Homo sapiens: one gene and its partner. The protein of the gene in region 2 purifies or fractionates together with the protein of the main gene of each other region. This does not show direct contact. Each region holds a gene or a part of one and is shown on either strand. Other genes may lie near its edges.

Region 1 (3,548 bases), on a different chromosome or scaffold from region 2:
AAGGGGCAAAGAGAATGGGAGGGTGGGGGAGAGCGTTTTTATTGCATTTTCTCTTTCATTCTGGGGGGCTTTCTCGCCCCTTCTCTCCCTGCAGCAGGCCTCAACCTGCACAGGGCTTTTGAAGGAGTCATTTGGAGTCCATATCTGTCACATCCATTTAAGGCGTTTCGGGAGGAGGGAGAGGGTGGGGTGGCGGGTGCAGACTCCTCCGCTGAGCCGGGCCCAGAGGCCCACTGCCCTCTCTTCCCACCCTAGGGGTCCCTGTGAAGGTGACCAACGTCAAGGATGGCACCACCCACCAGACCTCCTTGGAGCTCTTCATGTACCTGAACGAAGTCGCGTGAGTGTCTGCAGCCCTGTCCGGCCTCTTGGGAACCGCCGTCTCGGGCGAGCACGAGCCTGGACCGTTGCAGCTAATGGTTGTGGCTGAGGCTCAGGGGTGCGGAGCACAGGCCATGTCCCTTCCCCATAGCCACAGAGTTTCCCGGACCAGGGGGACCCATTTGGCAGGAGAGGCTCCGTGGTCCTTAGCCTTGGAAGATAACAACCCCAGGAGGTCTCCTGCCTCCAAGGGATCATTAGGCCGGGGCTCTCAGGCCCTTGGCTGGATGGGAGGCCAGGATAGAAGGAAAGGGAGCAGTAGTTAGCTGTGGCGCTAGGCAGGGCCCCAGGACACAGGGAACGGAAGGAACAATGTGAACTCACACCTGGGCAATCCCTGCTCTCTCTGGGCCTCAGTTTCCCCACCTGTCCAGTGGGCACCTGGACTAGGTGACCCGGCTCAGATGTCCTCTTGAGTCTTAGATCCTGAAATGCTGCCTAATGTGTGGCCTAAGCTGTGCCCACCCTGGGACAGCCCAGCTGGGTGGGTGACTCTGAGCCTTGCGGTAGCGCCCGAACCTAATGGACCAGTTCTTCCCACAGGGGCAAGCATGGCGTGGGCCGTATTGACATCGTGGAGAACCGCTTCATTGGAATGAAGTCCCGAGGTGAGTCTGCTCAGCCTCCCTCAGGGCCTGCCTCGGGACCCAGCAAACCCAGAGATCCCTGAGACCCTGTCCCCTTTGGACGCTACTACCCCCATGCTCCGTGGGCGACCTTGGGCACGTCCTTTCACCACACCCCGTGAGACCGCAGTTTCCCTCCTGCCAAGTGGGGATCGTGGGCCCTTTGCCCCTGACTTTCAGGGTGTTATGAGAAGAGCTGTCCAAGGGCTGGGAGAGGCCCAGGAGGGCCTGGGGAGTCTCCGAGGAGCAGGGAGGCCAGGGCCAGGCCTGGAGGTCAGGCTGTCTTGTGTCTGGGGTGGGCAGGCCGGGTGTGGAGGCAGACCGTGCAGGCCCGATTTCGTGGTCATTAAGGCCGCATGGAGGCCGCCGGCCAGGCAGGGCGAAAATCCTGCCAGGGGTGGGCGCTGTGGCTGCACAGGCACTGGGAGCCGGCCAGGGCCTAAGGACCTGTCCCAGCATCAGGCACGGCTCACTGGCCCTTTTCTCCAGGGATGGGGCTGTGCCACAGTTGGGGCTGTGCCGCAGTTGAGGCTGAGCTTCAGTGTGACATGCCTGCCACCTCGGCTGGCCTCTAGCCTGCCTAGCCTCGTATCCGCCTGTGGCTGGGCCCAGGAGCAGGGCAGTTGGTCCCCAAGCAGGTGCCTCTGTCTTCTCTTAGTAGCCAAAGCCCATGATTCCCTTTGTCAGCCAATCAGCATTTCATCTTGACCACAACCCTCCTCTCCAGGACTCAGTTTCCCCATTCATACACCAAGGGGATCTCAGCTCCCTGAGGGTCTGCCAGTGTGTGATAAAGCCATGCTGTGTTCTTTCTTGGGGGTCCTAAGAGGGAAAGAGCAAGGTTTCAGCAGTTGCAGCCCCTGAATTGGGCACCTGAATTTTTATACTGGTGGTGGGGTCAGGGCTTCCTGTTTCGGTAAATGTTCAGGTCTCTTTGCTTAGGGTTGATTTGAAAAGATACCACAACCAAATATCACCTGGCCACGGTATAGTCACGGCCCCATGTCTCTCAGGCTATTTTTACTAAGATTCTAAAATCCAAAGAGAGCCGATCACCCCATGTGGGCCAGAAGAAAAGGGTGGTGGTCCGGAGGGCAGGATGCCTGCTTCTGGTCTCAGGTTTGCCCTGCCTTGCCCAACAACCTTGGACTTGTCATCTATCGCTAGGCCTCAGTTTCCCCAAGTGTAATGCGGTAGGCGCTGGGAGTTGCATCACTCTGGCTCTGACCTGTCTGCGTTTCCCTGGAAAGGCATGGCAGCATGGACCGGGGCGGGGACGGGCTTGCCTCGAAAGACATGGGAGCGCGGAAGGGGAGGCAGGCTCGCCTCTTTCTTGTGGCTTTAGCTCCTTGCTTGCTGTTATTCAGGAGAAACAACCTAATTGAAGCTCTGGGGAGGCCTTGAGAACAATGTTACTAATTAGCTGCTCCTTTTTATCCGGGCTTACCTTTGTCTCTTACCTATATTAACATGTGATTAGATGCCCCTTTGTCGCAGCCTGCCCTTGGGAGCCAGCGCGGTGTGCACCCTCCAGGGAGAGCTGGGAGGGACCTTGAGGAGCCACAGACCAGCACCCCATTTACAGATGCGGAAGCCAGGGCTGGGGAGGGGTGGGATAGAGGGCTTGCTTCAAGTCCCAGGCACTTTAGTGGCAGGACCAGGACTGCCATCTGGGCCCAGAGTGGCATGGAGTGGAGGGCTAACAGCTTAGACTGGAGTTGGACAGATCTGGGTTCAAACTCATGTATGGTGGCAGGAACTGGTACACTGGAAGTGCTCCATAAATAGCCATCAGTCCCCCGGGCATGTGGAATGGGGACAGAAGCAGCCCCCATCCTCTGGGAGCTGTCAGTGTGGCGGGGGGTGGGGTGGGTTCCAGTATTGCACCTGTCTTATCATAATAAGGGCCTGCCACAGGCATGCCCTTGCCATGCCTGTGGCAGGCATCACCAGTCAATGCTGGCATTATCCTGTTGACTCCAGAGGTATCTCAGGGCTGCTTGCAGGCACTACCAAATGATCAGGATTGGCATACGTGATGAAAGTGTATTGCCTTCCCTATTGGAAAGATAAGGACTGGCCTGAAGTCACTGTGAAATGGCATCCTGTGGGGTGGGGCGAGTCAAGCAGAGTTGAGCAAAAATGAACTGAAGGAGGTGGTTAGTGATGAAAACCTGGAATGCACTATTCTGAATGTGGAATGGTAGCTGACAGCATTCCACGGAGGCTGGACCTTTTTCCCAGAATGGGGGCCTCATCCCCGTAGAAGGTCAAAGCCATGAGATCAACAGTCTGTTCCAATCCCCGTGGCTCCTTACCACCCACCTGGGGAAAGCTTCCTGGAGCCCAGCCTTCACTCTGCCCTGGTACTTTGTGTGTGCTGTTGGAGGCTCTCCCCAAAAGCACAGAATTTAGTCAGTGTCGTACAGGGAAGAAAATCGGGATTCTGACGGCAAGAACTTGCTGTGTGATCTTAGGCAAGTTTCTCCCTCTGGAACTCCAATTGTCAAGGGGCCAGATGAGGAGGTCGTATCATCTCCC
Region 2 (5,759 bases):
ATTCTAGCATTGCCATGCCTCTGACTTAAATCATAGGGCAAGACAATGAAACTATCCAGGTCATGTTCCCCAGCTATAGGGAAGGCAGGTCTACCCTGTTTTGCACAAGATGTGTGATCCTGATTAATTTGATGGTTATTTAACTTTTGCAAACTAAATCCTTGTGTAAAGGCTGGGAACTTCCTATTTTAAAGAAATTTGAAAAGAAATTTGGCATGGAAAGATTTATTCCCTTCTTAATCTTTCTTCAAGTACTGATATGAAGGTATGGATGTGCTTCAGTAAATTAAATACCATTACCAGTGTTTAGTTTAGTGGTCCTGACCAGCAATGCTACTTAATGAAACAGAAGAAAATACCAGAATGCATCATATGTAAAAAGAGTAAGTATTATTTCATAAAATTTGTGTGTGTCTGTGTGTACACATATGTATGAGTGTTTAAGTTATGACATAAAACAAATTTCTTATTGTGGGTCACAGTCAAAGTTTAAAAGCCACTGATACATGGTAATATTATTTAAATATTTTCCGGCATATTAGGTATATTTAAGATGTGAGTTCCAAACAAGATGCTTTATTATTTTAAGCCAACGTTTTCCAAACTTTTTTGACTGAGGTTCATTGTAAGAAACACATCTTTGTTGGTGGAGGGGTGGGACAGGGTCTAGCTCTGTTGCCCAGGCTGGATTGCAGTGGCGAGATCATGGCTTACTGCAGCCTCAAACTCCTAGGCTCAAGCGATCCTCCCACTAGAGCACCAGGTTGGGAAGAGTGACAGCAACCAGGGCCTCAGCCCTCCACCCCATCCCCCAGTAGCTGAGACTACAGGCTTGTGCAAGATGCTTAGCTAATGTTCGTATTTTTTGTAGAGACAGGGTTTTGCCATGTTGCCCAGTCTGGTCTCAACCTCCTCAGTTCAAATGATCTGCCTCCTTTGGCCCCTCCCAAAGTGTTGGGATTACAGGCGTGAGCCACCGCGCCCGGCCAAGAAACACATTTTTAAGTTGTAATTTCATACTCACATGCCACACACATACAACTACACAACATAAATGAAACAAAATTCATGAAACAATACTTACAACCTTACTATCTATCTGCATTGCTGTCTGATATTTCCTACTTTGTTTTTTAAAATGCTCGTCATGACCCCTTAAACTGAACTATGACTTGCTCCAAGTCTGAAAAGCACCACTGAAAGGGCAGGGAGGAATGATTGTACTTCCTGACCAGGGGGTGAGTGAGAGGAGACCGCCTGCCCAGAATACAAGGCAGTGGGAACCAAGGCCAGGCCCGGTTCTAGCAACGCTGCCGAAGCTTCCTTCAGCATTAAAGAGACTTCAGTGGGGGAGGGCAGGAGACACTATGCCAGACACCTCTTCATGCAGAATAAAAAGGCATAGTGTAGAAATGAGGACCCTTCAGTGGGCTGACCAAGGAGATTAATTGGCATTCTGAACCAAATGTGTTGCAAAGACAGACAAGAAAGCTGAGCCCTCCCAAACAGTCCAAAAATGCCCAGCAGTCAAGTTAGCCAACAAACACTCCTCCTCTCCTGCCAAGAGTTTTCAGCGCCTTTAAAATGTTCTCCAAGTTTCAGCACCAGACTCCCAGCATCCACCCAGCTGATTCCTGACTTCATGGAACAACCCCTCATTATGGATGAGGCCTCCCATTCCTCTCAATTCTGCCCTCATCCCTCCCTATCCCCACCCCCTCACTGGGGTATCAGGTTTCTAATTTCCTTTAGAGAGGTGAAAGCACTTGATTGCCACCCTCTTCCCAACCTGGTGCTCTGGTGGAGGTGAGAGTCAGAGGCTGTTCTGCAGGACACCCCACTGCCTTTCCTGGTTGTTCCCCAGAGCCACTGATACAATTTCACACAAGAAAGGAGGTGACAGATGTGAGGAGCCTGCCACCCGTCCAATCCTACTCAAGTCCTAAGCCCTTGCCCACCAATTCTGTGCATGATGATTGGACCTTTCTCTGGCTTTTCCAGAAGGGGAACACGCAAAGGTTAGGGAGCTGGATGGTCTAATTCGGGGCTATGCTCTTGTGTCATCTGCTCAACTGTCTCCTGCGTATTAGCCATGCTCCCTAACCAGCTTACAAACTTCTTGAAGGCAGGGACCAAATTCTTCTGAGTACAGGGCAGAGCTGGATACTTGGATATAGTGTCATGCCATGGTGACAAGATCCACGCCAGCAGATACAAAGGCAGACAAAGTGAGCGAGGCAGTTTCCAGGACCACGTGGTTGTGGCACAACTAAAGCAACAACAGCAGCCTCTGCGGTCTAAGGGGTCCTCGGAGGAGGAGACGGCTGAAGGTGGTGGACAGGGCTGAGGCGGGCAGAAGGCGGTTGTGCGATTTGGAGGGTGGGGGAGAATATACTGGATCAGGTGAGGTAGAGACTGGGCAGCTGGGTCGACTACAGAGGTCGAAAGTGCAGGCACTGGAGTGAAGAGTTCACAAAATAAATATTCCGGACAAGGCCACCAGGCCCAGCAGGCCTTTTCAAACACGGTGGATAAAGATTTGAAGTAGATTAATTATATATCACAACAAAAGGAGATAAAAATTTGCTAAGACTATAAATCATCTGGGAGCGTTTGGGATCGGATTCTAGTCGAGTCTGGTCACTCCCAACCAGCGATAAACCAAAGGTGGGGAGGAGGCTAAATCTGGACCCCAGCGCTCCCCGCCCGCCTCCCTTTCCTCCGAAGGCTCCCAGGAGGCAGAGGGGCGGCGAAAGCACGGAGCAGTCTTGCATCAGACGAGGGGCGGGTACGTGTTTGCTGCCTTACGAGGGCTGCCTTCCCCTCCAGCTGCCCCAGCAGCCACCAGACTGGTTGGGTCTCCGCCAGCTTCCCCCCGCCCCCCGACCCCCCCAACCCCGCCACCGCCAAGGCAGGCTAGAATCGGCGGGGCGGCCCAGAACTTGGTTGGGAAGAATCGCCAGTCCCTGGGTTCCCCGCAAAGAAGCCACTTTGGGGCCCCTCTCCCGATCGCCCCGCGCGGAGGCGGTTGGGGGTTGGGGGAGAGGCGGCGCGAGGCTGCCAGAACAATTGCGCGCTAAGGCGCTGGGGCGCCGCGCTGGCATCCCGCGCTGGCATCCGCGAGCAGCCTGCAGGACCAGTTGGAGCAGCCCGCACTTTGCAATGCTAGCGGAGGCATGCCAACGTGAAAGACGCGGTTGCAAACTAAAAGAAAAGTTTGCATCTCGCCGCCGTTTGTTCTTCCCTCTTTCTGCCTCCTCCCGCCCCCGTTCTTCTCTACCCCCCAATCTCAGGAGGCCCCGGAACTAATTGATACGGGGTGCATGCGAGGGGGGCGCGCTGGCCTGGGCGCAGCCAGCCTTTTTCCATGGAGGTTGCCCTAGAGACCTCAATTTTCTCTCTCTCGCCTTACCTGCAGCTCCGCTATCAGCTCCTCTTTGCTAAGGTTCTGCTTTTCCACCACCTGCAGCCCTCCATCTTGCAAGATCTTCCGGCAGCAAGGGTCCAGGCTGTCACTGATGAGCACTTTCCGCAGATTTGCAAAAGCCATTGCTGGAGTTGGCCTCGGAATCGGCCGCTGTGAGTAGAAGTACCTAAGCCAAGAAGCTGCGGTTCGGCCTGGCGCGCTAGAGTAACTGGGCAGTATTCTCCAGCTCCCGCTCCCCAGTCATCTCCTCCTCCTCCTCCTCTTACAGTCTCCTTTTGATTGGACGGAAATACTCAAACTCTCCGCGACTCCGCCTCCTCCTCGCGGCTCTGAGGTTGCCAAATCCCTGCCCGCTTTATTATCCTCCCGCGATGAATTTCTCCATCTCAGCCAAAGCTCTTACCTACACCTGGTGAGCATATAAAAAGCACAATTTACGCTGACTAGCTGATGCATATCTGAAATGAACGGAGAAATACACCTCATCCTGAGAGAAAAACTTCATTTTCACTTTTCCTCCTAAGGATTCATTTATTAATTCCTTACGAAATTTTTTTTGAGTGGGTAAATGTGCAAGGCACTGTGCTAGACGTTGAAGGGAATTCGACTATCAAAAAGAAAATGTCCAACAATGATAGACTGGATTAAGAAAATATGGCACATATACACCATGGAATACTATGCAGCCATAAAAAATGATGAGTTCATGTCCTTTGTAGGGACATGGATGAAATTGGAAATCATCATTCTCAGTAAACTATCGCAAGAACAAAAAACCAAACACCGCATATTCTCACTCATAGGTGGGAATTGAACAATGAGAACACATGGACACAGGAAGGGGAACATCACACTCTGGGGACTGTTGTGGGGTGGGGGGAGGGGGGGAGGGATAGCATTAGGAGATATACCTAATGCTAAATGACGAGTTAATGGGTGCAGCACACCAGCATGGCACATGTATACATATGTAACTAACCTGCGCATTGTGCACATGTACCCTAAAACTTAAAGTATAAAAAAAAAAAAGATACATCCTCTTTCCTCTGGTGGCCTAACATCCTAGAGTACCAAACACACAGACTTGGAAAGTTACGTAGTGAAAAGCAATAGGAAGCTTTCTGAGACACCAAGGAGCTGTGATTAATTTCAAATTAGTGATGCAATGAGAATTATGAGTTTATAAAAGAGCGGGGACCTGGTGCATTTAAACTAGGCATACTTTGTTAAAGTTATTTATTTCCTTTCCCTCCACTTCCTCTCTAATTATGAAAAAGAAGAAAAGGAAAACGGGATGTCAGTGTGGTTTAATTGACCAAGGAGGCACTTCTCAGCTCTTAACTCTTTTATATTTAAACCCCATAACCGACGTGCTCTCTCATGCCCCATTTTACAGAAATGTCAGAAAATTCAATTTGGGATTAAAGTCACCTAGAATCAGAAGCAGAATCAGAGATGCTCATAGTTGAATTAGAATTCAGCTTTATGGACATATCCAGTCCAACTAACCATTGTGTGTTATGTCATCCTGAGCTATTCATAACTCAAGTGCTAGATCCTTATCCTACAGAACTATGCAATATCAATTCTATAAAGTAATGAAAATTCTATACAGATAATTCCTGGGCACAAATCAGATTTTTAGACACAATGTCCTCAGTGGGTAAAAAAAAAAATTGTCTATCATGTTTGCTTGTTCGGATGAATTGTTATTCCTACATTCCAAGACTCATGAGTATTCAAATTCTCTGTCTCTCTTGAAGTGCCCAGCAGTACCCTGGAGTCTAGGGACAGACAGGGGACCTATCCCAGGAGGCTTAATGGAGGGTCTTGGGAAGCATCCATTTTTGTAACTGCTTTCCTTCAACTCCTCCCAGGGCTCACTAACTGCTTCCTTTCAGTGTAGAATCTAAACCCTGCTATCATTAACATGTAATCCCACCCTTTCACACCAAGTCAAACTTCTTGGATACTGTCTGAACGCACAACCCAGAGGGCCTCCTAAGCCTGATCACCTGTTTTCTTTATTTATTATTTATGACCCACCTACTTTTTAAACAGATCCAAGCCACACAATAAAAGACACTTCTAAACCGTTAAGAAAATAATTAACAGATTAAGAGTCCATTTCCAAGTGAAAAGGAGGGTGTGTGATAATTGTTACATAAGTCAGAAATGTTCCCTCCTTTTAAATTTCTATAGAATTAACTTCAAGTTATCTCACAGTGCCTTAAGCAATATATTTATGAACTTTTCATGTCTTGTTCCCCATGAACTCTCATTTCCTTAAATCAGAGACACGATTTTGTATACCCCCAGTAGTGCCTAGCAC

Evidence for each region. Proteins that work in one complex are often made in the same cells at the same time.
Region 1: the proteins of PHGDH (region 2) and ASS1 fractionate together in Homo sapiens (co-fractionation; one large-scale study listed by BioGRID). This does not show direct contact.

What each region holds. Positions count from the first base shown.
Region 1 is NC_000009.12:130,479,461-130,483,008, forward strand, and holds part of ASS1 (argininosuccinate synthase), read left to right. Parts: intron 1-255; coding exon 256-340; intron 341-924; coding exon 925-989; intron 990-3,548. UniProt on the Homo sapiens protein: One of the enzymes of the urea cycle, the metabolic pathway transforming neurotoxic amonia produced by protein catabolism into inocuous urea in the liver of ureotelic animals.
Region 2 is NC_000001.11:119,709,814-119,715,572, reverse strand, and holds the start of PHGDH (D-3-phosphoglycerate dehydrogenase), read right to left. Parts: upstream 3,640-5,759; 5' UTR 3,551-3,639; coding exon 3,413-3,550; intron 2,843-3,412; exon of another isoform or gene 2,775-2,842; coding exon of another isoform or gene 2,715-2,774; intron 2,662-2,714; exon of another isoform or gene 2,113-2,661; intron 1-2,112. UniProt on the Homo sapiens protein: Catalyzes the reversible oxidation of 3-phospho-D-glycerate to 3-phosphonooxypyruvate, the first step of the phosphorylated L-serine biosynthesis pathway.